Linked DNA regions of Homo sapiens. The protein of the gene in region 6 interacts with the protein of the main gene of each other region in a pairwise test. Each region holds a gene or a part of one and is shown on either strand. Other genes may lie near its edges.

What was found.
Region 1: the proteins of BIK (region 6) and MARCHF5 interact in binary tests that used the Homo sapiens proteins (3 or more experiments, as listed by UniProt).
Region 2: the proteins of BIK (region 6) and TMEM120A interact in binary tests that used the Homo sapiens proteins (3 or more experiments, as listed by UniProt).
Region 3: the proteins of BIK (region 6) and CNIH1 interact in binary tests that used the Homo sapiens proteins (3 or more experiments, as listed by UniProt).
Region 4: the proteins of BIK (region 6) and CYB5B interact in binary tests that used the Homo sapiens proteins (3 or more experiments, as listed by UniProt).
Region 5: the proteins of BIK (region 6) and C14orf180 interact in binary tests that used the Homo sapiens proteins (3 or more experiments, as listed by UniProt).
Region 7: the proteins of BIK (region 6) and CLDN19 interact in binary tests that used the Homo sapiens proteins (3 or more experiments, as listed by UniProt).

The regions. Positions count from the first base shown.
Region 1 is NC_000010.11:92,293,888-92,298,268, forward strand, and holds part of MARCHF5 (E3 ubiquitin-protein ligase MARCHF5), read left to right. Parts: intron 1-4,381. UniProt on the Homo sapiens protein: Mitochondrial E3 ubiquitin-protein ligase that plays a crucial role in the control of mitochondrial morphology by acting as a positive regulator of mitochondrial fission and as an important regulator of immune response.
Region 2 is NC_000007.14:75,986,331-75,989,844, reverse strand, and holds the end of TMEM120A (transmembrane protein 120A), read left to right. Parts: intron 1-620; coding exon 621-680; intron 681-1,328; coding exon 1,329-1,424; intron 1,425-1,503; coding exon 1,504-1,593; coding exon of another isoform or gene 1,594-1,696; coding exon 1,697-1,762; intron 1,763-1,860; coding exon 1,861-1,922; intron 1,923-2,034; coding exon 2,035-2,127; intron 2,128-2,242; coding exon 2,243-2,307; intron 2,308-2,416; coding exon 2,417-2,485; intron 2,486-2,559; coding exon 2,560-2,673; coding exon of another isoform or gene 2,674-2,813; 3' UTR 2,814-3,014; downstream 3,015-3,514. Other genes in the region: POR (NADPH--cytochrome P450 reductase), read right to left, coding at 3,364-3,508. UniProt on the Homo sapiens protein: Multifunctional protein involved in mechanosensation, and plays an essential role in lipid metabolism and adipocyte differentiation. May function as a potential ion channel involved in sensing mechanical stimuli.
Region 3 is NC_000014.9:54,424,018-54,428,398, reverse strand, and holds part of CNIH1 (protein cornichon homolog 1), read left to right. Parts: intron 1-557; coding exon 558-585; 3' UTR 586-4,381. UniProt on the Homo sapiens protein: Involved in the selective transport and maturation of TGF-alpha family proteins.
Region 4 is NC_000016.10:69,427,141-69,431,521, forward strand, and holds part of CYB5B (cytochrome b5 type B), read left to right. Parts: intron 1-4,381. UniProt on the Homo sapiens protein: Cytochrome b5 is a membrane-bound hemoprotein functioning as an electron carrier for several membrane-bound oxygenases.
Region 5 is NC_000014.9:104,582,231-104,586,611, forward strand, and holds part of C14orf180 (nutritionally-regulated adipose and cardiac enriched protein homolog), read left to right. Parts: intron 1-4,184; 5' UTR 4,185-4,200; coding exon 4,201-4,311; intron 4,312-4,381.
Region 6 is NC_000022.11:43,116,607-43,120,987, forward strand, and holds part of BIK (bcl-2-interacting killer), read left to right. Parts: intron 1-4,381.
Region 7 is NC_000001.11:42,734,521-42,737,723, reverse strand, and holds part of CLDN19 (claudin-19), read left to right. Parts: intron 1-1,693; coding exon 1,694-1,846; coding exon of another isoform or gene 1,847-1,962; exon of another isoform or gene 1,963-2,589; coding exon 2,590-2,638; 3' UTR 2,639-3,203. UniProt on the Homo sapiens protein: Forms paracellular channels: coassembles with CLDN16 into tight junction strands with cation-selective channels through the strands, conveying epithelial permeability in a process known as paracellular tight junction permeability.

The DNA.
Region 1 (4,381 bases), on a different chromosome or scaffold from region 6:
TGTACTACTCTCATCTTTGTACTCTTTTGACATACCTTAAGGTAGATTTTTAACATGACTTTCAAAGACCGTTATTGTCTAGATTAGTAGTTGGCAACCTACTTCCATGTTAGAATTACCTGGGGAGCATTTCAGAATATGCATGGATGCTGGACTGTAAGACCAATAAGATCAAAAATTTCTGTAGGGTAGAGCCTGGGCATCTATATTTTAAAGCTTTTTAAATGTTTTAGATATGGCAGAAACCTACTGCCCTAAGTCCTAAGTCAGTGATATCTTTCATGATAAGAGATAGTAGGGTATAGTGAGTAAAGCTTGGGCTCAGAGATAGAAAGTATGAAATTCGAATTTTGCCACTTACTAGCTATGTGACTTTGAACTTAGATTCTGACACTATGTATATTATCATTTATAAAATGAGAACCCTACTTCACAGGGCTACAGCAAATGAAACATACATCTCTATAAAACAGCAAAACACTCTATGTTAGCCAAATAGAAGGCACTTAAGACTAATGTAAACCAGTTTGGCCATTTTTCCCCCATCTACTTTATGTTTACAGCTTTCTTCACCTGGGCTGGCCCTACTGCAAGTTGAACACAAAGATACTCAACATGGTTCACTTGAGGAATACCAACAGGGCCAAGAGACTAAAATATGTCAGCCTATTAGGACCCAGAATTCTTTTCATGAATTTGGCTTCTCCCCAACCTGGTTTTTGGTGGCAATTTTTGAGGGACAGAATTTAGCTCAGATAACTGTTCATTTGTTTATTTCTTTAATGCAGGTTTTATCTTCGTGAAGACTAAGGAACTGTGTGTTACATATTGTTCTGTTGCTTTTAGGTTAAGTTACGTATTTTATTTAGGCCAGGCACAGTAGCTCATGCCTGTAATCCCAGCACTTTGGGAGGCCGAGATGAGAGGATTGCTTGAGCCCAGGAGTTAGACACCAGTGTGGGCAACATGGCAAGACTCAGTCTTTACAAAAATGTTAAAAATTAGGCCAGGCCTGGTGGCACATGCCTGTGGTCCCAAATATTCAGGAAGCTGAGGTGGAAGGATTCCTTGGGGGTCGTGGCTGTAGTGAGCTGTGTTTGTGCCCCTGGGTACTACAGCCCAGGTAACAGAGCAAGACCCTGTCTTAAAAAAAAATGTTATTTTTCAGTAAATCAATTATTAAACATTTACACTTATTGAATTTATTTAACAAATACTGAGTGTCTTCATATGCCCAGTACTATTCTAGGCCCTTGGTATATAGTGGTGAATTGAACATAACAAAAATGCCCTTATGGAGCTTCAATTCCAGGGGTGTTTGTGTTGTCTAAACTGTCAAAGTGAAGACTATTTTAATTGTAATATGAATGGTATGTTCAATTTATACCATTTAATCTTTCAGGGTTTTTAAACTAGAGGCAACTTTTCTTTTTTTTTTTTTTTTTTTTTTTTTGAGGCGAAGTCTCACTCTGTCACTTGGGCCAACTGGTGACAACTTCTTTTATTTATTTATTTATTTATTTTTTATTTTTTTTTTTGAGACAGAGTCTCGCTCAGTCGCCCAGGCTGGAGTGCAGTGGCGCAATCTTGGCTCGCTGCAAACTGTGCCTCTTGGGTTCACGCCATTCTCCTGCCTCAGCCTCCCGAGTGGCTGGGACTACAGGCACCCGCCACTAAGGCCAGCTAATTTTTTTGTATTTTTAGTAGAGACGGGGTTTCACCGTGTTAGCCAGGATGGTCTCGATCTCCTGACGTCGTAATCTGCCGGAATTGACCTCCCACAGTGCTGGGATTACAGGCGTGAGCCACCGTGCCTGGCCTGTGGCAACTTCTTAATAGCTGAAGTTGAATTCCCTTGTCCTTTGCAAATAACTCACTTTAGTTTAGCTATTATTTGTTTATATTGGTAACTTTGATTACTGTAATATTTGTAGGTGGAAAGAATACATATACATACGTATATATATACATACATACATATATATATGGAATTTTTTTTTTTTTCATGGAATTTCGCTCTTGTTGCCCAGGCTGCTGGAGGGCAGTGGCGCGATCTCGGTTCACCACAACCTCCGCCTCTCGGGTTCGCGTGATTCTCCTGCCTTAGCTTCCGGAGTAGCTGGGATTACAGGCATGTGCCACCACGCCTGGCTAATTTTGTATTTTTAGTAGAGACTGGGTATCTCTATGTTGGTCAGGCTGGTCTCGAGCTCCTGACCTCAGGTGATCCACCTACCTCTGCTTCCCAAAGTGCTGGGATTACAGGGGTGAGCCACCACTCCTGACCATATGGATATATATTCTTTGGATTGCCTTTCGTTTTTATAAACTATAAGTGTTTTATGTAAATTTATTATTTGAACCTTTTAAGTTGTTGTGGGGAAACAAGAATGGTGGAAAGGGGGGTGATTTTTCTAGTGTCGTGAATGTTTCAGTGTCACAAATATCATTTCCCTGAAATGATAACCATTCATAAGCCCAAACCCTTTATGTCAGGCCTTTTGAACCTTAGTTAGCTCTTCTGTCTTTCATTGCTTCAATTCTTTAATAAGAAGTTGTTATATATTACTTTCTCTTTGACCACCGACATTCTCATTTTTCTCTAAAACTTCTCAAAGTTAGGAGTGAATTTACAGAGAACAATGCAAAGAATATTATAACAAACTGCAGGAATGGACCTCTGATTTGAAGCCTGGACCTACTGAGAAATGCTTTTGGAAACTACTTCTGCTTCCCCCGTCTTAAAATAAACACGCATTAATTTGTTGAGGTTGTTTTGCATCACTTACTTGCATCTAGTAAATAGGCAAGGAGTGTAGCCAGAATGTCCCCAGAATGGTCAGATGGCAGAAAGAGCAGAGAGAGTGGTCTATTCTTCCAGCCCCCTCCCACAATGGTATAGTGAATTAGAATTCTGCCTCTGTGAGAGTGTTATCCACAGATGTATACCCCTTTGAAGACCAAGGAAGCTATACTCTGATAGGAGCATGCTGTATAAACAATTTCACATTTTCTTTGTCAGTTGACCTCTTTTTCTCAATCACATCACCATGTTGACAATTACAGACCAATGCCCAGAATTAAAAATCATCATCAATTATATTTATTTCCAGATATATGTAAAAAATGGAAACATCATAGATAAAATTAAATCCCCTTTGACCACCATCCCCAATGGCATATCTTCTCATCCCCACTCCACTATCATAAAATGGGTTTATATTCTTCCATCCTTCTTGGTTTAATGCTTTTATATAGAAAAGTATATTAATAGACTACTTTTTTTTTTTTTTTTTTGAGTCAGGGTCTTACTCCATTGCTCAGGCTGGAGTGGAGGGTCACAGTCACGGCTCACTACAGCCTCAACCTCCCAGGCTCAAGTGATCCTCCCACCTCAGCTTCCAGAGTAGCTGGGACTACTGGTGTGCACCACCACACCTAGCTGATTTTTTGTATTTTTTTTGTGGAGATGGAGTTTCACCACGTTGCCCAGGCTGGTCTCAAACTCCTGGGCTCAAGTGATCCGCTCGCCTCGGCCTCCCAAAGCTCCCAAAGTGGGGGACTACAGGTGTGTTCCACCACATCCAGCTTTCAACTTTTTTTTTTTTTTTTTTTTTTTGAGACAGAGTCTCACCCTGCCACCCAAGCTGGAGTGCAATGGCGTGGTCTCGGCTCACTGTTGCAACCTCCACCTCCTGAGTTCAATTGATTCTCCCACCTCAACCTCCCAAGTGGCTGGGACTACAAGCACGTGCCACCACACCCAGCTAATTTTTTGTATTTTTAGTAGAGACAGGGTTTCACTGTGTTGGCCAGACTGGTTCAAACTCCCGACCTCGTGATCCACCTGCCTCGGCCTCCCAAAGTGCTGGGATTTCAGGCATGAGCCGCCACACCTGGCCTTTTTTCTTTTTTAATCCAGTCTCGTTTATGACATTTAGATTCTTATTTTCTCTTTATTATTTTTCCTGATAATTTGACTTTCATTCCCCTTTCTTGTCATTAGCTCTACTGAAAGTGTACTGAAGGGCTGGGTGCAGTGGCTCACACCTGTAATCCCAGCACTTTGGAAGACCGAGGCAGGCCAATCACTTGAGCTCAGGAGTTCAAGACCAGCCTGGCCAACATGGCGAATCCCCATCTCTACAAAAAATACAAACATTAGTAGGGCATAGTGGCACATACCTGTAATCTCAGCTACTCGGGAGGCTGAGGCACAAGAATCGCTTGAACCTGGGAGGCAAAGGTTGCAGTGAGCTGAGATCGTGCCACTGCACGATCTCTCTCTCTATATATGTATATGTATACTAAAGGTCACCAATAATTTCTTAGTAAATATAATGACATTTTCTTCAGGACTTTTTATCCTTCAGAATCACGT
Region 2 (3,514 bases), on a different chromosome or scaffold from region 6:
ATTGGCGGGTGGCCTGGGGACTCAGCCAGCTCTGATGAGATCTGGGACTGGAGAGCGTGGGGGCCTCGGTGAGGGACAAGGGGGGTCGTGGTGGGAAGAAACGCCCCGGGAGGCTGAGTACTTGGGGTCAGCCCACAGTCAGAGCTCTGAGTTTCTGTTCTGGTTTGGGAGGTCGTCCTAGATGTGGCCAGGCGTGTGGGTCTCTGAAGTGGAACCTAGTACTGCAGGTTCTGGAGGGGAGGTGGCAGGGAGCTGGGGGGTAGGTGGTGGCCATCGCACAGGGGAGCAATCGGGGACAGGGGGACGGCCCTCAGCAGGGAGGGAGAGCCGGGTTCTCTTGGTGCCCTGAGGTGGGGGAGTTTCAGACAAGACTCTGGAGATGGGGGGGAACACTGTTTCCTCCGGGGGTCAGGATTCCGGAGCAGGCGGCCAGGAAGGCTGGGCATGGCAGGGAGTGGGTCTGCAGCCTCCAAGGTCAGAACCCGATGCCAAGGCCCTGCGGAAAGCAGCGGGTGAGGGGGTGGGGTGGTGGCCCAGGCTCTGGCCTGGCAGGCTTGGCTGAGTACCGGTGGCTTGTCTGTCACTCGGGCTTCTCCTCACCCCGCCACCCCCTTCCCTAGATTGTACCTGAGCCTGGTTCTGGGGAACGTCAACGTCACGCTCCTGAGCAAGCAGGCTAAGTAATCAGGCCGAGCCTCCACCCCCCAACCTCCACCCCTCCACCCCTAGCCCCCTACCCCCCTCCCCCCCTCAACCTCCACCCCTCCACCCAGCCTTCCCCCGGAACCCGGCCTTCCCCTCCACCCCCCAACCCGGCCTTCCCCTCCACCCCCCACCCCACCCGGCCTTCCCCTCCACCCCCCACCCCACCCGGCCTTCCCCTCCACCCCCCCACCCGGCCTTCCCCTCCACACACCCACCCGGCCTTCCCCTCCACACACCCACCCGGCCTTCCCCTCCACACACCCACCCGGCCTTCCCCTCCACACCCCCTCCCCGCCTTCCCCTCCACACCCCCTCCCCGCCTTCCCCTCCACCCCCCCACCCGGCCTTCCCCTCCAGCCCCCCACCCGGCCTTCTTCCCCTCCAGCCCCCCACCTGGCCTTCCCCTCCAGCCCCCCACCCGGCCTTCCCCTCCACCCCTCCACCCGGCTTTCCCCCCAACCTGGTTTTCCCCTCCACCCCCCACCCCACCTGGCCTTCCCCTCCACCCCCCAACCCGGCCTTCTCCTCCATCCGACTACCCTTGGCTCAGCTGCCCTCCCGGGGTGGGGGCACACATGGGCCCCACCAGCACCCCACCCGTCTCACCGGCCTGCGCCCCCCAGGTTTGCCTACAAGGACGAGTATGAGAAGTTCAAGCTCTACCTCACCATCATCCTCATCCTCATCTCCTTCACTTGCCGCTTCCTGCTCAACTCCAGGTGGGCGTCCCACCCCGGCCGAGGACCCACCCCATCCCCAGTCGCTGCAGTACCAACCCTCGGTCCCCTCCCTCCGCAGGGTGACAGATGCTGCCTTCAACTTCCTGCTGGTCTGGTACTACTGCACCCTGACCATCCGGGAGAGCATCCTCATCAACAACGGCTCCCGGTGGGCAGGGCGGGCCCTGAGGGAGGGGAGCATGGAATGGGGTGCCAGGACCCTCCGGGAAGCAGGAACAGGCGCTGGGGGTGATGGTGGCTCTCTGCTCCAGGATCAAAGGCTGGTGGGTGTTCCATCACTACGTGTCCACCTTCCTGTCGGGAGTCATGCTGACGTGGTGAGTGGCTGGGCCCCGGCAGGGGCAGGAGCTGGGACAAGGAGGGGATACACGGCATCCCCAAGGGTCCCCACACTGCCCTCCACTTTTTACCTTAGGCCCGACGGTCTCATGTACCAGAAATTCCGGAACCAATTCCTCTCCTTTTCCATGTACCAGAGTGAGTGTCCCAGATGTCTGTGCTGAGCCCTGGAGGCACCCGTGGTGGGGGGCAGGGGCAGGGAACCCCTCCCGGGGCTCAGCCCTGCTCCTCTGTCCTCCGCCCGGCCCAGGCTTCGTGCAGTTTCTCCAGTACTACTACCAGAGCGGCTGCCTCTACCGCCTGCGGGCGCTGGGCGAGCGGCACACCATGGACCTCACTGTGGGTGAGTCGGGAGTGGCCCTGGCATCTGGACATTCCCCTTTCCTCCCATCCCGGGTCTGAGTGGTAGCGTCCCCTCTGTCCCTGGCCGTCCTGTGCCCTGACCTTCCTCCCCGCAGAGGGCTTCCAGTCCTGGATGTGGCGGGGCCTCACCTTCCTGCTGCCTTTTCTTTTCTTTGGACACGTAAGTCGTGCCTCTGTGTCCCTGCCTGTCTGTCTGTCCGTCCTCTGCGCCGGTTTCGGGCTCCAGCAGGGACTGGGTCTTCTGAGTAAAATGCCTCCTCCCTGCTTAGTTCTGGCAGCTTTTTAACGCGCTGACGTTGTTCAACCTGGCCCAGGACCCTCAGTGCAAGGAGTGGCAGGTGAGCCGGGGTCCCTGGACAGGATGGATGGGGGGCCAGGCCCATGTCCAGCCCTCACCCTATTCCTCCGGCAGGTGCTTATGTGCGGCTTTCCCTTCCTCCTCCTTTTCCTCGGCAATTTCTTCACCACCCTGAGGGTTGTGCACCACAAGTTTCACAGTCAGCGGCACGGGAGCAAGAAGGATTGAGGCTGGGCCTTCCCCTGCCGGCCCAGAGGGGCTTCTGTCCTGTGTGTTGTGGGAGGGGATGGGAGGCGCCCCTCGAGTGTGCGTGTATCAGGGGGTCTCTTCTATTCTCCCTTGGGTTTTATGGGCGCTGTGGGCCCTGAAGGAAGACCTGGGCCCAGTGCCCTCAATAAAGAGAGGCCCAGAGGTGGCCTGAGCGTGTGTGTTCTCCTGGGGGAGGGGAGGGCTGGGTGGCCCCACCACATGGGTTCCTGGGGTCTGAGTTAGTTAAGTTGATGCAGGTGGAGGTCCCAGATCTACTCACACAATACCAGGCAAATACAGAAAACAGAACTTTATTCCAAGGGCCAGAGGTTATTTAAAATTATTTACACTCACTGGAAATCACGTGGAGGGGCTGGGCCCAGCTCAGCAGAGAGAAAGAGCCCTTCTGTGCAGCCACCGAGGGCCAGAGGCCTCCAGAGGCATGGAGCCCGGTGCCCCCATGCAGGCCCTGGGCTGTGCTGCCAGGGGCCGGTGGACCTCACCTGGCCTGGGGGCTGAGGAGGATGCACCCCAGGCCCAGAGGAGTCTTTGTCACTGGGCCTGCGCCCATGCCAAGGCCAAGCCAAACACACCCAGGAGACTACGGGAGGGAGCCAGGAGAGCTGATTACAGGCCGGAGTCTGTGGGGTGGGTGGGGCAGGCAGGCCCCTAGCTCCACACGTCCAGGGAGTAGCGGCCCTTGGTCATCAGTTTCTTGATGTAGTCCACCGCCTGCGCGTGCTCCATGGCCCCGAGCTCAGCCACGATGTCGTAGAAGGTGTTCTGCACATCCCTGGCCATGTTCCGTGCATCCCTGGGC
Region 3 (4,381 bases), on a different chromosome or scaffold from region 6:
AGGTCATTGCCTTTTATTTTGCTGTTTTCCCCCCTTTTCTTTTTTAACCACTTCCTAAAAGTTGCTATTGCTTAGATCCTTTCTGTAATGGGAAAGATCCTTGATTGATCATTCCTTTCTATACAATGGGGATACACATGGTACCTGCCTTCTAGGACTCCTTGAAGGATTAAGCAAGGTAATGTATATAAGAGACCTAACAGGGCCTGGCGTGAAGTGAGCCCTCCAGAGATACTCATTCTATTATTAGACACAACTCCAGAGTGTGTGATGTTTGGATGGCTTCTCTAAGCTCTGATCCGCCATTAAGCTTTCAGCTGTGCCGTTCTACTTGCTAAAATTGGAAGGGAATAGGGGACAACTACAGCATATGCACTGAGCCAAGTCATATGTTAGGCAAAAGTCCATAAATGCAAATTAAAATCACTGTGAACTTGTCATTAGTCTTGTCATTTTCTGTGATACTAGTTTGCTATATAAAGCATACTCTCTCATGCTCTGAGTTTTTTTTTAATAATTAGTAATGTTCAAATTAACATCTTTTTTCTTCTTTTCAGCATGATCTATGTTTTGGTGAGCTCTTAGAACAACACACAGAAGAATTGGTCCAGTTAAGTGCATGCAAAAAGCCACCAAATGAAGGGATTCTATCCAGCAAGATCCTGTCCAAGAGTAGCCTGTGGAATCTGATCAGTTACTTTAAAAAATGACTCCTTATTTTTTAAATGTTTCCACATTTTTGCTTGTGGAAAGACTGTTTTCATATGTTATACTCAGATAAAGATTTTAAATGGTATTACGTATAAATTAATATAAAATGATTACCTCTGGTGTTGACAGGTTTGAACTTGCACTTCTTAAGGAACAGCCATAATCCTCTGAATGATGCATTAATTACTGACTGTCCTAGTACATTGGAAGCTTTTGTTTATAGGAACTTGTAGGGCTCATTTTGGTTTCATTGAAACAGTATCTAATTATAAATTAGCTGTAGATATCAGGTGCTTCTGATGAAGTGAAAATGTATATCTGACTAGTGGGAAACTTCATGGGTTTCCTCATCTGTCATGTCGATGATTATATATGGATACATTTACAAAAATAAAAAGCGGGAATTTTCCCTTCGCTTGAATATTATCCCTGTATATTGCATGAATGAGAGATTTCCCATATTTCCATCAGAGTAATAAATATACTTGCTTTAATTCTTAAGCATAAGTAAACATGATATAAAAATATATGCTGAATTACTTGTGAAGAATGCATTTAAAGCTATTTTAAATGTGTTTTTATTTGTAAGACATTACTTATTAAGAAATTGGTTATTATGCTTACTGTTCTAATCTGGTGGTAAAGGTATTCTTAAGAATTTGCAGGTACTACAGATTTTCAAAACTGAATGAGAGAAAATTGTATAACCATCCTGCTGTTCCTTTAGTGCAATACAATAAAACTCTGAAATTAAGACTCACTTTCAGTGCATTGTTTGAGATTAAAAATAGTATTTCTTAAACTTGCTTAATCCATGATAAAGACATGTTGCTGTCATTTTTAAAAAGTGACGTACTACATTATGGGTTTTCTGAAAAATACCATGCCTAGATCTAAAAAGGAAAATTTTTAAATGCCGAGCACATTAACCTCTTTTGTCATTTGACAAGATTCATAAACGTGGATGGCATAGCATCATCATTTCTCTTACCAATTAAGAAAAATTATGGTGGCACTTAAAATATTTTACTTTGATTTTTCCTTTTTGGAACAGTCAGTTTTAAGGTAAAATGGCTTGTAAATTTGAGTTTTTGCTGCTGCTTGTAAGGCAGGTAAATTATGGCTTGCATGTTTTCATAAGCATAAATAAATCTTGTGCTTTATTTGGGATGAGGAAGTTAAGGCAGTTGAAAATAAAATAAGTGGTTTGGAAGTTTCTTGAGAAGAGGATCAAAAGAAAGAGAACCAATATATAGAAATTTCACATGATCAAGGAAGTTTATGGATGCGTTTGTGGAAATCTTACTCTATGAACTTGTTGGATTAGATGCTGTTTTATTCTCTACTAAGTGAAAAGTGCTTTATTTCAGTGCTTTCCCATGGTTGGGAGAGAGTAGCTGTTAACTATTCTGGGTAATGGGGGTGAGTATGTTGAGGAAGAGATTTAGAACCAGAAGAGTGAAGAGACTCAAACTGTTCCATAACAAGGAAAGCTTTAAAGACCTTGTATTTCACAGTCTGGAGAACTAGAGGGATCTGACTCTTGGTCAGTTCATGTAACAAATTATTTATTGAGTACTTGCTGGGCTCTCAAGATTCATGCTTTGAGCACAGGCAGTCATTCAGTTTCCAGTCCACCTGATTACATCAGCATGCACTTAGTTTTCTTTCTTGTTCACAAGGACTTTTGATCATGCAAGACCTGGCCAAGTCTTCTATAATCCAGATGGGTTTCCTGGGGCTGTTACTTGAGTATTCCTGTCAAAATATTTTCGTGAACCCTGCCTCTCTTAGCAAACACTACTTCATAAGTGTTAACAAACATCCTTTTAATAATCTATTCCAGAATATTCTCCAGGAGTAAGTTTACTGGTTGGGATTTGTGGAAGCCATTTTCTCATGTTTCCCAAATAAGATATGTAGTCTTCAGCTGATTCCTCAAAGATGATTGACAGGGAGTTTCACCCATCTTTGTGGTAGTTTGTGAGTTCCTAGGCATGTAAGTGATTAAAAGATTGAGTACCTGCTCTCCTAATATCTACCCACTTTTACCATGTCAGTGTTTTATGAATTAGATCACTTACCAAGAGAAAGCAGAAACGAAATACTTGAATCTGACAATATCCGACTGGCTCTTTTCATTGCTCTGGATTTATTTTCCACATCAATCTCTTTGGGGTGGCCCTAGCCTATTATTCCTGTGGGTTCAGCTGAGGCATGGTTAGCCTGGGTTTATAATTCAGTTTACGTTAAACATTCCCTGTGCAGCAACAGCTGTTCATTTAGGTACTCTTTTTTTTTTTCTCCTTATTACAGTTACTTTTGGTATTATGTGCTTTATCTTTAAAAGCTTTCTAGCTCTAGGAAATTGTTTTCCCTGTTTGTGTCTATTTTATTGCATCTTGTGTAACACTGTGGTTATATCTATACCAACAACTTTTTGTTGCTATGGATACCACAGATTGTCCTGAATTAAAACCCTAACATAATAAATGTCTGTTTAGCCGTTACTTTACTGAGTAATAATACTATATTGTGGCAGTATGGCCCTTTAATACTAAGGAGGTATGGTGTAGAAATTATTTGAACACTCATATCCAAATGTTATTAATGATGTTTGACAGTTTTCTCAATGCTTAATGATATTCCTCACTCCTCATTCCAGGGTAGAGGAGGGTTTGGTCCCAGGCTATGGACAAACTGCTAATTTGTTTGAAGTTTGAATTATTTTTCATGGGAAAGGGAAGTGATAGGAAATGACCAAGACCATCCACTTTTGACTTGAGTATGGATCGAGTATAAGTAATAGTTTCCTAGCCTCACTGATTGTACCATGAACTGACAGACCTACCAGTCAAATTCATGTACCCAGATAATGGTCTCTCACATGGCAACAAAGTACACAGCAGTTTGCAGTATGTGTCTCTTTTAAAGCCAGTTCAGTGTTTTCACCTTGACGACCACTCCTGCAAACAGTTCTCATAGAGCTCTTCTCTGCTCCCCAAATCAATATATTTTGAAGCTATGTCAAATATTTACATAGAAAGGAAATAAAGTTGTATGTGCTTTGAAACCAGCAAAATCCTTTGTACAACACCTCTCTTCTCCTTCTATGTTTATGAATAGAGTTCGTGGAATATTGCCATAGTGCAAATAATGACTTCCGTGTATCACTTATACCCTGTAGGGGTGAGCTTTCACCTTAGGTGTGGTTATATCCTAGCAGTGTATCAAGCCCACTCAAATAATGGTCTATATTTAAAAGTATGTGTCTAGTTTACTTATTTATGTCATTTAACATCCATAAATGTACATCTCTCAGTTGTATATCATGATTGTAAATCAGAAATTTTGATGGCAAAAATATTCTAAAACAACATTCTTCAGGGGAAAGAAAAACATGGATACCTTATCTAGCATTGCTCATAAAAGTACTCATGTTCATCCTTTTTGGAAACTATTAATCATGCTAGCCTTAGATCATTTTAAGCTCCTTTGCTCAAACCAATCATTGATGTGCAGTATGACCAGCAGCTAGTAAGTCTGTGGTGCTACCAGTATAGCTTGGAAGATGGTTCTGAATTAATACCTCAGAATGATATCAAAAGTAAAAGAGTGGTTCTATTGCTAAATATATTGACTAGCTTTCTTATAACAATTTTACTTTGAA
Region 4 (4,381 bases), on a different chromosome or scaffold from region 6:
TAGGAGAATCGCTTAAACCTGGGAGGTGGAGGCTGCAGTGAGGTGAGATGGTGCTGCTGCACTCCAGCCTGGGTGACAGAGTGAGACTCCATCTCAAAAAAAGAAAAAAAAAATCATGTTTTTCATTTGTGGTTTTATTTCCCTCCATTTTTTTTCTTGATTGATTCAGAATAGATGGTGAGCTTGGAGGGAACACTCAGCCCTTACAGAGAGCATTAATTCAGTCTCAAGTAATAGTTGCTAACCTGTTTCTTTCTTTTTTTTTTTCCTCTGTGAAGATTCCAGAAGTAACTAACCTGTTTCAACCACATGCTGATATAGCCAGAGACATCACTAATGTGCCAAGGTTTCTCTTGGAGCTTGAGCTGCAGCTCTTTACCTGCAGTTTTGTTTTTTTTGTTTTGTTTTTTGAGACAAGGTCTTACTTTCACCCAGGCTGGAGTGCAGCTCACTGCAGCCTCAGTCTCCTGGGGTCAAGTGATCCTTCTATTTCAACCTCCCGAATAGCTGGGAAAAGGTGTGCACCACGACGCCTGGCTAATTTTTAAAATTTTTTGTAGAATTGGGGTCCCACTGGCTGGGTGTGGGCTCATACCTGTAATCCCAGCACTTTGCGAGGCGAAGGTGGGCAGATCATGAGGTAAGGAGTTCCAGACCAGCCTGACCAAAATGGTGAAACCTCGTCTCTACTAAAAATACAAAAAAATTAGCTGGGCGTGGTGGCACACACCCGTAATCCCAGCTACTCAGGAGGCTGAGGCAGGAGAATCGCTTGAACCCGGGAGGTGGAGGTTGCAGTGAGCCAAGATGGTGCCGTTGCACTCCAGCCTGGGCGACAGTCAGACTCTGTCTCAAAAAAAAAAAAAAAAAGAATTGGGGTCCCACTATTGCCCAGTGTGGTCTGGAACTCCTGGGCTCAAGGGATCCTCCTGCCTGGGCCTCCCAAAGTGCTGAGATTACAGGTGTGAGCCACTGTGCTCAGCCTAATTAGCTATTCTTATTTATTCTGTTTTCTTGTTCATTCCAAGCCTATTCATTCATTCACTTATTCAAATATTTATTAAGCCTTTACTATGTTCTAGACACTGTTCTAGGTGCTGGGGATTTAGTAGTGAATAAACAGCTATGCCCTCATGGAGATTACATGGCACAGGAGGCAGACGATAAGCAGAGTAAATAACTAAAATATATACTACATTAGGTAGTGGTAAGTGCTAAGAAGAAAAATAATACAGGGGGCTGGACACGGTGGCTTAGGCCTGTAATCCCAGCACTTTGGGAGGCCGAGGCGGATGGATCATGAGGTCGGGATTGAGACCATCCTGGCCAACATGGTGAAACCCCATCTCTACTAAAAATACAAAAATTAGCTGGGCATGGTGGCATGTGCCTGTACTCTCATCTACTTGGGAGGCTGAGGCAGGAGAATCACTTGAACCCAGAAGTTGGAGGTTGCAGCGATCCAAGATTGTGGCACTGAACTCCAGTCTGGTGATAGAGTGAGACTCCGTCACAAATGAAAAAAAAAAGAAAAATAATACAGGGAAGAGGACTGTGGAATATTTATGTGGTGTGAGGAGGAGGGTTTGAAATTTTAGCGATGGTGCCGAGATAACTTTATGAAGATGACTAAGTAAAGGCCAGGAGCAAAGTAAAGGAGCTAGCCATGAGGGTATCTGTAGGAAGAGCATAGAGCATTCCTGGCAGAGGAAACAAGTTCAAAGGCCTTGAGATGGGAGGATGTCTGGTATGTTTGAGGAACAGTCAGGGAGGCCACAGTGGTTGAATAGTTGCACATGAGATCAGAATGATCAGGGGAGGACAAATCATGTACAACTTCACAGGTTTTAGGAAGGACTTTGGCTTTTATTCTGAGATGGGAAATCATTGGAGCAGAAGAGTGACATGATGTGACTTAATGGCGTAATAGGATCGTTCTGACTACATTGTTGTGAAAGACTGAAGGAAGAGTGTGTCTGGAGTTGGTTCCTTCCGGTGGGTTTTTGGTCTCTCTGACTTGAAGAATGAAGCCATAGACCTTCGCGGTGAGTGTTATAGCTCTTAAAGGTGGCACAGACCCAAAGAGTGAGTAGCAGCAAGATTTATTGTGAAGAGTGAAAGAACAAAGTTTCCACAGTGTGGAAAGGGACCAGAGCAGGTTGATGCTGCTGGCTGGGGTGGCCAGCTTTTATTCCCTTATTTGTCCCCGCCCACATCCTGCTGATTGGTCCATTTTACAGAGTGCCGATTGGTCCATTTTTACAGAGTGCTGATTGGTGCATTTACAATCCTTTAGCTAGACACAGAGTGCTGATTGGTGCATTTTTACAGCATACTGATTGGTGCATTTACAATCCTCTAGCTAGACACAAAAGTTTGCCAAGTCCCCACTCCACCCAGGAAGTCCAGCTGGCTTTGCCTTCTTAAGAGGACAAGGGCAGAATTGAGGAGACCAGTTAGGAGGCTGTTTTAGTAATTAGGCAAGAGATAGTGGGTTGTACCAGAACAAGTGTCAGATTTTGGATGTGTTGTGATGGAAGAGCCAATAGGATTTAATGATGCGCCAGATTTGGGGAATGAAAGAAAAATGAGTCAAGGATAACACCAAAGTTTTTGGCTTATGAGTCTTCAAGAGTTGGGTTGCTATTAGATGAGAGAGGGAAGATTTACATTGGTATTCATCCTTCTCTTTCCAATCTGATGTCACTTTGGGGCCCCTCCTTTAGCAAGAGGTTCCTAATCTTAAGTGTCCTGTGTCTGTAGCTTACCATTTTTTTGATTAATGACTGGTTAGAGTATGATACTGGAGTTTGAATGTGGTAGTTTAGAATTAGTAATATAATTGAATTGTCTTTCCCTGGCAGATTAATTTTGCATTGTTTGAATCAGTGCATTCATGAGTTGTTGAAATCATGAATGAAAGTAGTACATGTCATTATCTTTCCACCATTTAGTAGTTTAGAAAAATCACATAAAAATGATTGTAATATCTTATGACATTGATAGAAAATATCAAAGTGCATCTCTCTTATCAAGGGTAAAATTTTGTGAAACTTTGTTCAGTTATATATAATGTATTTTTTTTTCTTTTTTTTGGAGACAGTCTGGCTCTGTTGTCCAGGCTTGAGTGCAGTGGTGCCATCTTGGCTCACTGCAGCCTCTGCCTCCTGGGCTCAAACAATCCTCCGCCTCAGCCTCCCAGGTAGCTGGGACTACAGGTATGTACTACCACACCCTGCTAATTTTTTTGGTATTTTTTTTGTAGAGATGGGGTTTCATCATGTTGCCCAGGCTGGCCTCAAACTCCGGGCTCAAGTGATCCTTCCGCCTTGGCCTCCCAAAATGTTGGGATTACAGGCATGAGCCACTGTGCCTGGCCTATAATATCTCATGTATATGGTGTTTATTGGATTGCAGTGTAAAATTATTTCCTTACTGGGTATTACAAGTGAAAATTTGGAAGCCATTGACTTGTGTATAAATAGTCATTTGTCAAAAGAGTAACTTGAAATAACATTGTGATATTTTAAAACTTTTTTTTTTTTTTTTTGAGACAGAGTTTCACTCTTGTCGCCCAGGCTGCAGTGCAATGGCATGGTCTCAGCTCACTGCAACCTCTGCCTCCCAGGTTCAAGTGATTCTCCTGCTTCAGCCTCCTGAGTAGCTGGGATTACAGGTGAATGCCACCATGCCCGGCTAATTTTTCTATTTTAGTAGAGATGGGGTTTTGCCATGTTGGCCAGGCTGGGCTTGAACTCCTGACCTCCGGTGATTCACCCGCCTCGGCCTCCCAAAGTGCTGGGATTACAGGTGTGAGCCACCATGCCCAGCCCTATTTTAAAGCTTTATATGTGTATTTATTTATTTATTTATTTTGAGATGGAGTCTTGTTTTGTCGCCCAGGCTGGAGTGCAGTAGCATTACCTTGGCTCACTGCAACCTCTGCCTCCTGGGTTCAAGCGATTTTCCTGCCTCAGCCTCTGGAGTAGCTGGCACTACAGGTCCCTCCCACCACACCTGGCTAGTTTTTATGAGATGGGGTTTCACCATGTTAGGTAGGCTGGTCTCGAACTCCTGACCTCAAGTGATCTGCCCACCTTGGCCTCCCAAAGTGCTGGGATTACAGGTGTGAGCCACGGCACCGGCCTATATGTGTTTTTAGAAACTGTCACCATAAATGAGAATATTACTTTAGGAACCATCTCATAAATGGGATAACATTTTATTAACCCAACAAATATTTGTTAAGTTCTATATAGTAGTAGGCCCTGGTGGTGTATAAAAATAAACATAAACATGGAACCCCAGCCTGGGCGACAGAGTGAGATTCTGTCTTAAAAACAAAACAAAGCTGGGTGCAGTGGCTCACGCCTGTAATCCC
Region 5 (4,381 bases), on a different chromosome or scaffold from region 6:
GGAGTGGGAGGGAGCAGCAGTGGCTGGGCCCCAGAGCTTGGCGTTATCCAAGCCACAGAACCAGGCAAGAACCACTGGCCCGCCCCCACGCCCCACTGCAGGCTGGTCTCGAGGGGGAGGGACTCGGCACTGCCACGGCCGCTGGGCTCCATCAGTGCCCTCACGTCTCTCAGCAGCTTCAAGATGAGGTGGGGTCTTTGGGGTACTGGGCTAGACCCCCAAAGACTGTTGGAGGGTCACACCCCAGACCAAGGTCCTGGGCCTCAGCCCTCATGGCCCCACCTCCCACCAGCAGTACGGGCTGGTCATGCCCACAACTGGGAGCTCCGGGCCCTGACTCCCGCCTCTGTCCCAACCCAGGCTCTGAAACCTGGCAGGCTGTTCTCCCTCTCTGGGCCTCAGTTTCCCCTCCGCCAGGGAGCTCGGTGCCCCCTCTCAGTAGAGGAGCTGGTAAGAACCCCCCAGCCCCCCAGCACCAAGGGAGGCGCCATGGGGTTCCTGTTCCCAGAGTGGGGGTAGAGTCCCCTCGGGTGGACGCGCCCTCCCCAGCAGCGGGCCTAGCGGGACACTTACAGGTCCAGGCTCTGAAGCTATTTTCCGCCCTTTATCTCCCATCTGTCACGAGGCCTCCAGTTACACACTGTCCCTGCCAGAGGCCCCAGGCCTCCCCGCCCCCACCTGCCGAGCATGCCAGAGCCACTCCTTCCCTGCTTCCACTGGGGAAAATGAGGCCCAGGGAGGTCACACCACTTACCCGAGGTCACAGAGCCAAAGAAGGACAGAGCCCAGGACTTGAGCCAGACCTCTCTTCCAGAAGGGGAAGCGTGAAGCCCAGTTAGGGAGGGGATGGCAGGGCTCAGGGAGGCTGTCTGGGAGCAGAGCATGGCCCACGTGAAGGTGCATCTCTGGAGAGGGGACCGCGGAGCTCAGGGAGGCTGCCTGGGAGCAGAGCGTGGCCCACGTGAAGGTGCATCTCTGGAGAGGGGACCTCAGGGCTCAGGGAGGCTGCCTGGGAGCAGAGCGTGGCCCAGGGGAAGGTGCATCTCTGGAGAGGGCCCCAGGGCTCCCGGAGGGGAGGTGTCATCCCATAGGATGTCCTGACTGTCCAGACACAGCCAGAGCCACCTGAGCTCTGTTCCTGGGCACATTCCCTCCCCGAGTGATGCCAACAGTGGCTGATGGCACAGAGCACAGGCTTGGTGCGGACTCGGGTCTGTGCACTGACTCCCACCCTCACGCGAGCCCGCAGAGGCTGCTGCTCTCCTCACCCCCATTTCACAGCTGAGCAGACCAACGCCCAGGCAGATTAGGAGACTTGCCTAAGGTCACACGTGGTCACACAAGGTGCTCTGGAGCCCACACCTGAAGAGGGGGAGGTGCTGTCCCGTAGGAAGTCCTGACTGTCCACATTCCGGCAGAACTCTGTGCCCCAGAAGGCGAAGTCGCGTCCTCCCCAAGTTATGCTGCTCAGCAACAGATGGTTAATGCCACAGCCAGGCACCCTCACAAACACACTGCCTACGCCTGCACATTCACATACACTCTACACAAACACACACACATTCACCCACACATACGCAGATACACTCACACACACACACGGGCACATGCATGGACACACACACACATGCATATTCACATGCACGCACAGAAATACAAGTACACATATGCACACATAGCCACACCTCCATGCACACATTCACACACACAGACACCCCACACGTGCACACTCATGCCCTCTGACACACGTGCCCACTCTCACACTTGCACACTCAGGGGAATACTCACACATGTGTGCACTCACACACGTGCACACACACACTGTTTTCCCACCATCCCTTGGACAGACCCCAGGCCAAGGAGGGGTGAATAGCGAGAGCTGCTGGCAGGAGCTGGGGGAGACTGCGTCCAGCCCTGCATCCCTGCGTGACTCCGTCGGCCCAAGCCTCTCCAGGCCTGTTTCCCCATGAGGAGTGAACCTGGCTGGGCCCCCTGGAATGCTGCTGCAGGGTCGCCTGGCAAGGGGCTGTGGCCCTGGGCACGCCAGCCAGCCCCAGGCCGTGCAGCCCCAGGAAATGACCCCGAATGCACAAGCCTCCTTCCGCCGGGCAGTGGGAGAGCCCGGGCTCTGGGTCCAAGAGGTCACTGGGGGGCTCTGCTCCACCCCCAACCCCACCCTGGGCTTTAGCAGAGTTTCTATCCCACCCAGGGTGGAAACTGAGTCAATGGCATCCAGAGAGCCCTTCCAGCCCCAGCCCTGCTACGGACAGGCAGTCAAGGTTGCCCTGCCAGGCAGCATCCCCAAAACACCAGGACAGGCCTGGCACTCTGTGGCTTCCCTAACCCTGGGGATCACGCAGAGCCCACATTCCAGGTGACCTGGCCCCAGGAGACGGGGCCCCAGCTCAGCTGGGCCTGCAAGCACAACCTCTCCCACAGCCACTCTCTGAGAGCAGGTCCTGAAGATAAGCCGCCCCTCCCCGCCACCCCCCTGGATGGCCGGCTCCTGCCACAACCCTATTTGCAATAAAAACCTGATCCGGCGATAGCAGAAAATTGCTCTCTTTTGAAATAATTGAACCCGTCCAGACAGTGTCCTCCCAGACATCATTAACAGGGCACTCTGCTTGTCTGCAGTATTTATGCCCACTTGGGGAGGTGGTCATGGCCACCCTGTTATCTCCTGTAGAGGACGGCACACGGCTGCTGGAGTCACTGCAGTATCCACCCAAACCACTCCTCCCACAGGCCTGCCCTGAACCTCTGAGGCACCCATCCCTTTGGGGGACCCTGGAGGAGTTATCCTTGAGGACCATGTAGGCCCCTCACTCTCACCCTCCCCCTTCTCAGCCCTTGGGGGCAGGGTCCTTGGAGGACCACGGGGAGCCAGGGAAGCATCTCAGGAAATGCAAACACCTGCCCTGTGAGGGGCAGGGGCGGCAGTACCCTCCAAGGACCCCAGGGCAGGGGAGAACCTGAAGGGCAGCAGGAGGTCCCCACACTGCCCCCTATCCAGCTGGGAGCAGGGCAGGGAGGACCTGGCCTGGCATCAGCTCCCAGGGAAGCCCCAGCCCCCTCTGGCCTCAGTTTCCCGACCTGAAGCAAGAGAGGCAGGCTCATCACCCCCAGAGCCCTTGAAAGGCAGACACCTGCACCTGCACAGATGCCTGGTAGGCACTGCACCCCTCTGTAGGGAGGAGTGCCCAAAAGTCAAGAACCCTGCCAAGGCTGTGAGAGAAAATTCACACTTGGGGGGCTCCACCGGTGAGCACGAATGAGGAGAGCACAGCCTCTGCCGCCAAAGACACGGGGGTGGAGGCGAGGAGGCGCCATTCACAGCCAGGAAGCAACCAGCGCAACAGAGGAGGGGACAGAGAGACAGAGATAGAGGTAGAGAGATAGAGAGAGAATCAGAGAGAGGAAGGGGGACAGAGACAGAAACAGGGAGATAGAGACAGAATTAGAGAGAGGCAGGGAGACAGAGATGGAGACAGAGAGAGAGACATAGAAAGATAGAGACAGAATCAGAGAGAGGCAGGGGGACAGAGAGATGGAGACAGAGAGATAGAGACACAGAATCGGCGGGGGCGCGGTGCAGAGAGAGACACAGAGAGAGAGTGTGAGCCGTGCTGAGGGGTGGGCCCCCAGGAGCCCAGGGGCGCCCCACCAGCACCAGCCCAAAAAGGTGGGCATGACCCTCTGGGAAGCCTTTCTGTGGACCCGGTCTCAGAGCCCTGACAATTCCCAGTCCCCAGCCCCAGGGCTTCCCGCTACCGAAAGGAGACAAAGCAAAGATGTTTCTTGCAGCCTTATCCATGACCTCCAAACATTGCAAATGACAATACTAAAATGCAACCCTCATGAATACCCAATCATCGAGGGTGACTTTCAGTGACGGGACCTCGGCCCAGTGGAATATTATGCAGCCATTAAAGATGATAATTATGAAGACCGTGGCAGCAAAGGAAATTGCTTGCGATGGCATTTCTGAACGAGCAGGGAACAGGATTTACCTGCACTGGGGACACCACAGAGGAAAAGTGGTGTCTGCTCAACAGCGTGGCCGGTCGCAAGCCCGGGAAGCCAGCCTGGCTTCCAGGAAAGAATTTTCTCCTCCTCTTATTTTCATTCCTCTGAGTGCCACTTGTGCAGTAAATAATAAATAACGTCTCTGCTTATCTTAGGACCATGTTCCAGTAAATGAGGACTGCAGCAGGAGCCGTGAGCCCTGACTCCCGGCCAGAGACACGACGTCAGACCAGAAAGAATGAGGAGGCCGCGTGGGGCCCGCGGGTGTGCAGGGCAGAGAGGGTAAGGCGGGCCGCTGGGACACAGCTTCTGCAAGCTGGCCTTCCACTGGGGGCTGGAGGGGGCAGGGAGC
Region 6 (4,381 bases):
CACCCCCACGCCCGGCTAATTTTTGTATTTTTAGTAGAGACAGAGTTTCACCGTGTTAGCCAGAATGGTTTCGATCTCCTGACCTCGTGATCCGCCCGCCTCGGCCTCCCAAAGTGCTGGGATTACAGGCGTAAGCCACCGTGCCCGGCCTGGTGAAACCCCGTCTTTACTAAAAATACAAAATTAGCCAGGTGTGGTGGCGTGCACCTGTAGTCCCAGGTACTTGGGAAGTTGAGGTGGAAAGATCACCTGAGCCCAGGGAGGTGGAGACTACAGTGAGCCATGTTCATGCCACTGCACTCCAGCCTGGGTGACAGAGAGACCCTGTCTCAAAATAGTAATACTCCATATTGGGCCTCTCACAGGGGAATCTTGGGGGGAGCTGCAGCTCAGGGTGACTCCCATCTTGTCACTAGCCAGGTGACCCCTTCATTCTGGAGCCTTAGCTCTGAAAGCCGCAGGTGGGGGTGCCGTTTCAGATGCCCCTTTTCCATTTCAAAGGCTCTGATTCTAGATCTTGAAGCCGGATGCGGCACTGGCACTTGGCTTCAGTTTCCACTGTGACGGACGGAGGTCTCCCAGGCCCAGCCCAGGCAGCCAAGCCCATCCTGGAATCAGAACACGCTGAGCACATTTTGTAGGGTGGCACCTTTTTATCCAAGTTACTAGCTACACATCAGTGTTTAAAGAGAAAAAAGTGAGCTGTCTTTTTTTTTTCTTGAAACTTGAGGAAACAAGGTACATACTACGGATTTTTTTTTTTCTTTTTCTTTTTTTTTTTTGAGACAGTCTCACTCTGTCGCCCAGACCGGAGTGTGGTGGCATGATCTCGGCTTACTGAAAGCTCTGCCTCCAGGGTTCAAGCCATTCTCCTGCCTCAGCCTCCCGAGTAGCTGGGACTACAGGCGCCCGCCACCACGCCCAGCTAATTTTTTTTGTATTTTTAGTAGAGACAGGGTTTCACTGTGTTAGCCAGGATGCTCTCCATCTCCTGACCTTGTGATCTGCACGCCTCAACCTCCCAAAGTGCTGGGATTACAGGCGTGAGCCACCGCGCCCGGCCCATATTTTTTTTTTTTGAGATGGAGTTTTTCGCTCTTGTCGCCCAGGTTGGAGTGTAATGGTGTGATCTCGGCTCACTGCAAACTCCTCCTCCCAGGTTCAAGCGATTCTCCTGCCTCAGCCACCCGAGTAGCTGGATTACAGGCGCGCACCACCACACCTGGCTAATTTTTTTTGAAACGGGGTAGAGACGGAGTTTTATTACCATGTTAGTCAGGCTGGTCTTGAACTCCTGACCTCATGATCTGCCCACCTTGGCCTCCCAAAGTGCTGGGATTACAGGTGTAAGCCACCGCGGCTGGCCCATTTCATATATTTTTAAAATTTTTTATTGTTAATTTATTTTTAGAGAGGGGGTCTCGTTGTATTGCCCAGGCTGGTCTTGAACTGGGCTCGTGCGACGTGCCCGCCTCGGCCTCCCGAAGGGCTGTGATGACAGCACAGCGGTGCCTGTGATCTATGGCTTCAATTTTTCAAGGCTGCCAGGTCCATGCAGGGGTGTGTGTGGGATGCATCCCTAGAAATCAAAGGTCATGTGCGTGTGTGACTGGTGGATGCTGATGGTCACACTACCCTCCAGAAAGGCAGCAACATGTTCAGTCCACCGTGGCGTCCTGAGCTGTGAGTGGCCTCTGGTCTCCTCTCTTCTAAGGCTGTTGATTGTGTTAACCAGCTTTTATGGAGCCCCTGCTAGGTGGTGGAAAATGGGCAGTAGTGTATGTTTTCATCCTCTCAGCAGCCCTGGAGGCCCGGCTGTTTCTGCAAGGCTCAGAGGTGAGCTGGTTGTTCTGCCTCACACAGCAGGGGCCGAGCAGGGGGTGGAACTGAGGTCCAGCCTGGCTGCAGGCTCAGGGCGTTTCCTGCTGGGTTACACTGGAGTTGTGTGCGCTCCAAGGGCTTTGTGCCACCCCACCCTCATGGTCCAGGGCCAGGCTGTGACTGGGAGGGTGGCACGTGGAAGACTGGACCAGGGTTTTCTAGCTGGGCCCACTCAGCTGGCCCTCCCTGTGACCCCAGCGTGGCCCCTGACCCTCTCGGTTTGCCTGCCTGTGAAACAGGAAGTGTCAGATCCCGCCTGCTTGGCTTTGACAGGACTGGGCGAGGTCATGAGAGTCTGAGGGTCCCTACCAGGAGTTCGACCTCATCCTCAGGTCCAGCCCCATCCACCTCTGCCCCCAACCCCGCTCTGACACTCCTGCAGCCTCGGCCCTCGAACACCTGCTGAGGGCTGAGCAGAACACATCTCTACTTGCTTGTGCTTCTGGGCAACCTGGGAGGGGCTTGGGAGGTAGATGGCGTTTCCCCATCTTCCAGATGAGCCATAGGCGAGCTGTCGAGTGCAGAGCTGTTCACCAAATGTAGGCTGCTCTGTCCAGAACCTGCCCTCCCTCCCACTCGGAGCCCTGCAGGTGCCCTCAAGGCCGTGGGTGTGGTACTCTTTTCTGCACATACTAGATTTGCATCCTAACCTCTTAGGGTAAAATAGGGCTTCTGACTGGCGCCTGGTGTTTCCACTGGTGAGTGTGTAGGAGGCTAAGTGCGGGCTGTAGCCTGGGTGGGGACACATGGCTAGGTGTGTCTTCCTTCACCAAAGAAGGGTTTCAACTACTCATTTGCAAGTTTGCTGGAAAAAAAAAGATAATAAAAACCAGTCCAGTTTCCTGTATCTGCAGCTGCAGTGACCTCACAGTGGGTCCTCTGGGAATAGGTTGCCTTCATGTCTTCAGTCAACAAACATATGTCTGCTCTATGCCAGGCCTTGGGCTGACAACCAGAAACTGATAAGAGCAGCAGCCCCTCTCTTAGCGGTTTACTCTGTGCCGGATCATTTCATCCCCACAACAGTCCTGTGCAATAGGTGTTACTAGTATCTCCATTCTAATTTTTTTTTTTTCTGATATGGAGTCTTGCCCTGTAGCCCAGCCTGGAGTGCAGTGGTCAGCTGGAGCCAGAGGGGAGCAGAGACAGGGGCTGCAGGACCCCCAGGAGGCCCCCAAGCAGACTCTGAGGGTCCAAGAAGGTGATGCCCGAATAGGCCAGCCTCATACCCATCCTCTCAGTACTTTGGGAGGCCCAGGCGGGAGTTGAAGCCAGGAGTTCCGAGACAAGCCTGGGCAACAAAGCAAGACCCTATCTCTACAGCAATTCTATAAAAATGAGCCAAGTGCAGTGGTACATACCTGTCGAGTTACCCTGGAGGCTGAGGTGGGATGATTACCTGAGCCCAGGAGTTTGAGGCTGTAGTGAGCATGATCAGGCCACTGCACTCCAGCCTGGGCAAACGGGTGAGACCCTGTCTGTGAAAAAAATAATAATAAAATTTAATTTTTAAAAAAGGACCAATAGGCGTAGGCATGGGCCGGTCTGAGGTTGGCTGGTGAGCTCTGCACATTTGAAGACTTTGGAGGCATGGCAGGACCAGGCACCATCCATGGAAAGCATACTTGAGTGTGGTTAGCGCGGGAACCAAGATTGGGGTGGCAGGGCCACAGGGGGAGGGCCTGTTAGTGGATGTGGCACAACCCCCCACTTGTTTTTGAGACAAGTCTTGCTCTGTCACCCAGGTTGGAGTGCAATGGCGCGGTCTCGGCTCACTGCATATTCTGCCTCCTGGATTCAAGTGATTCTCCTGCCTCAGCCTCCCAAGTAGCTGGGATTATAGGCGAGCGCCACCACACCTGGTTAATTTTTGTATTTTTAGTGGAGATGGCGTTTCACCATGTTAGCCAGGCTAGTCTCAAACTCCTAAGCTCAGGTGATCCACCTGCCTCCACCTCTCAAAGTGCTGGGATTACAGGCGTGAGCCGCACTGCACCAGGCCAGGTCTAGGGAGCCGAACAGAGCAGTGACAGGGTCAGGGTTGAGGCTGCTACCTTGAGATTAGGTTGGAGAGAGCTCCACTGAAGGCTGGAGACCAGTAAGGCATTCAGAGCTGGTGCCAGGTAGGAGCTGACAGGACTGGGCCTCCCTTGGGCTGGTGGGGTGGCCAGGAGAGACCAGAGCAGGAGGTCGCTGCTGCAAGGACCCTCCTGGGCAGGCTCCCCACCTTCCGCTCCCTGGCTCCACACTTTTCCCATGCAGATCTGGGCCCTAAGGCCAGCCTAGGCCCAGTTGGTGATGGGATCTTTGCCATTCATATCAAGTCAATCTGAGGGCCTGGGCCCAGAGGCCAGATGGTTAAAGGTTCAGATTAGGTCCCTTCTTTGTGGTAGAGGGTAATGGGTATTTAATAAATTAATCCAAAGTGCTGTAATCCCAGTACTTTGGGAGGCTGAGGCGGGTGGATCACTTGAGATCAGGAGTTGAGACCAGCCTGGCC
Region 7 (3,203 bases), on a different chromosome or scaffold from region 6:
GTGACAGAGTGAGATTTTGTCTCAAAAAAATCAAACGATCAATCAATCCCAGCTTTGCATGCACTGTGTCACCTGGGCAAGTTACTTAATCTTTCTGTGCCTAGTTTCCTCCTCTGTGAAATGGAGCTAGAACCTGAGCACCAGTTCACACATGGTTGTCAGGATCCAGCAGGATGCAGGTGAGGGTGTGGCACCGTGCCCGGGCCCTGGACAGTACCCAGCAAGCCTGAGCTGTTTTCATTTCTGCTGGTGGCAGCAGGGCTGAGATGACTTCCTGCAGGAGGCAGCAGTTATTCTGGGCCAGGAAGAAACTTGAGAATAAGGGCAGATCGTGGAGGGCCTTGCAACCACAGGAAGATTTTGTTCCTCATTTGGGTGGAGGCAGCGGCAGTCCTTCTGGCTGTGATGTGCAGAATGGTGGGGAGGGAGTGACACCAGGAAGGCGGCTGTCCCAAAGGTCTGAGCAGAGAGTTTGGGGCAACAGGGAGGGAGCAGTGGAAAGCAGGCTGATATTCAGGAGATAACCAGGACTTGTAAGACTGTGGGCATGGGAACTGAAGGGGATGCTCTGCAAAGGGCCTGGGCCCACCTTGGCTCCTCCCTCACTTCTCAGCCTAGCCAGGAGCAGAGAATGGGACAGTCTTAACCCTAGACATCCCAATGGGCTTTGGGCCTTGGGGTGGAGAGAGGATGAGAAAAGATGTCTGGGCTTTTGCAATCGGGAGGGATGCCTGGAGGAGGCAGAGGTGTTGAGAGGCAAGGGGAGGGAGGAGATCTCAGGTACAAGGTTTGTTCCCTGGGTGGTGGCTGCAGCCACAAAGTCTGCCAAGCAAGGTCCAGCTCAGGCATGTCAGGATAGGACTCGGCCCCCGATCCCTTCAACAGTCCCCAATGCCACTTGGGCTGCCAGGCCCTGTGCTGGGTCCTGGGGACACTGATGGCTCTGTCTGCCCTCAAGGGGCTTCCCAGGGAGCCGGACAAGCAAGGGGCTGAGGCCTCCTGGAGAAAGCATGGTAGTGGAGTCGGCGCAAGGGGCGGGGTGAACACAGAGGATGTCAAGGAAAGACCCCACGAAGAGGTGGCATCTGAACTGGGCTCTGAAGGCAGAGAAGGAACAGGGGAGGCACAGGAGTGGTGGGCTGGGGGGCTTGGTGCCCCAGCTGGGGGTGCCTTGTGCAAAGGCACCAAGGCAGTGAGAACCAGGAGCAGGGCTGGCCTGGCCAGCAGGGTCTGGGTGTGGAGAGCCCAGAGTGCCAGGTGGAAGGGTCTGGCCTTCTCCAGAGGGCAGCGGGAGCAGTCTTGGCTGGGAGTTCTGTGGGCCAGAATGTGACTGGGAAAAAACATGGCAGGGATTGCCCCACTCCTCCCGTGCAGACCTCTCAGGCCCTCCCATGCCCCCTCCACTGGCCAGATCAGGAAATGAGCCCAAGGTTGCTCAGAGCAGGAGCTGGAGGCCCAGCCTCTAGCCTTCACGCCTACCCCAGGCCGGGTCACCCTGTGTGGTGTTGATATTCTGGGCTGGGGGGGAGGGAGAAAGGAAGAGCATTCACCTCAATTTATCTGGAGATATGGAAGAGGTTGTGAGGCTCCAGCCTCCAGCTCCACACACTCTGCCCTTCCTCTGCCAGGGCAGGGACTGGGAACAACCTGAGACGGCAGCCACACCTGATGCCACTCTCCCTACCCCTTGCAGGTATGAATTTGGCCCAGCCCTGTTCGTGGGCTGGGCCTCAGCTGGCCTGGCCGTGCTGGGCGGCTCCTTCCTCTGCTGCACATGCCCGGAGCCAGAGAGACCCAACAGCAGCCCACAGCCCTATCGGCCTGGACCCTCTGCTGCTGCCCGAGAGTACGTCTGAGCTCCGCCTGCCCTGGCCAGCCCCCCACCCAGTGGCCCCCTTGCCCAGCATCCAGCCAGCCTCGCAGCACCCTGGGCAGGGCCACTGGGGCATAGGATGGGCATAGGTGCTCTGAGCAGCTTGTCCTCAACACAAGCACCCACCCTGCAATCTGAGACCCAGATCCTCAGAGAGACACCAGAGGCAGGACCCAGCCCCCAGGCATACACACAGATGCAGGTCCAGGCACGGTCTTGTCTGCACAGCCTGGTGGGCACCAGCATGCATCCCTGGAGACAGGCCCTCAGGCACCAGCCCGGCTGTTTACTCACTGAAGAGCTGCTTGGGTGTCTGCTACGTGCTGGGCCCTAGAGATAGAGCAGTGGCCAAGACGTACCTTAGTACCCAGGTCCTTGGGGTGAGCAGAAACCTTCACCCTCCCCAGTCCCATGGGCTCCTCACAGCAACCCCACAAGGGCAGTGCCGGGATGCTGAACGTTCACACAAGGACAGGGAGGGTCTGAGTTTAGGTCTCAGGTTCTTCCAGTGCGCCCAGGGCTGGGGGCCACCTACACAGATGGTGAGGTCGGACCATGGCGCCCCTGCCCCCGGGAATGGGCCCCAGGCAGGGCTGCTGTGAGGGCCAAGGTCTGGCCACGCTGGCCAGTACCCATGTCCGGGCCTGAATGCACAGCCCCTGCCCCCGACCCCACAGCTCACTCCACTAACCAGCTCTCTCTCTTTTGACTTTCAGACCAGTTGTTAAATTGCCCGCCTCCGCCAAGGGCCCCCTGGGTGTGTAATGTCCAGTCCCCAGCCAGGCTCTGTCCCCTGCCATACCTAGACTGTGTGTTTCATATTTTTTTGGAAAGAGAAGTGAACATCCAGCCCCAATCATGGTATCATTCGGTCTGTCCTCAGCGTGGCTTGGACGGGGCCTGTGTCAGAGTGGTCAGTGCTGACCCCTGGGGCTCTTGGGCAGAAAGATGAGGAGACAGAGGTCCAGGGTGGGTTACATAGCACATCCAGGGCTAAGCAAGAAATAATTCAGAGGTCCTACCCTCTGTCTAGGGACCCCCCTCCCAAGCCTGGCCTTGGCCTTGGCACAAAGTCCTCCTTGATAGGAGATCCCACTCACTCCTGGAGGCTGCCCCTGAGGCTTGGCCCAGCTCTAGGAGCAGTCCCCAGGGTCAGGGAGCCCCTGGTGTGGAAAGAGGCCCCAAGGTAGTAAACCCTGCCCCTGTTACTGTGCTCCAGAGACCTCCTAAGGGAAGGGACAGTTCCTGGAAGGCCCTCCAGCTGGATGCTGGGGATCAGCGATAGGTGAGGGGACACAGTGTAGGAGCTCCCCATGTAGAAAAGGGAATG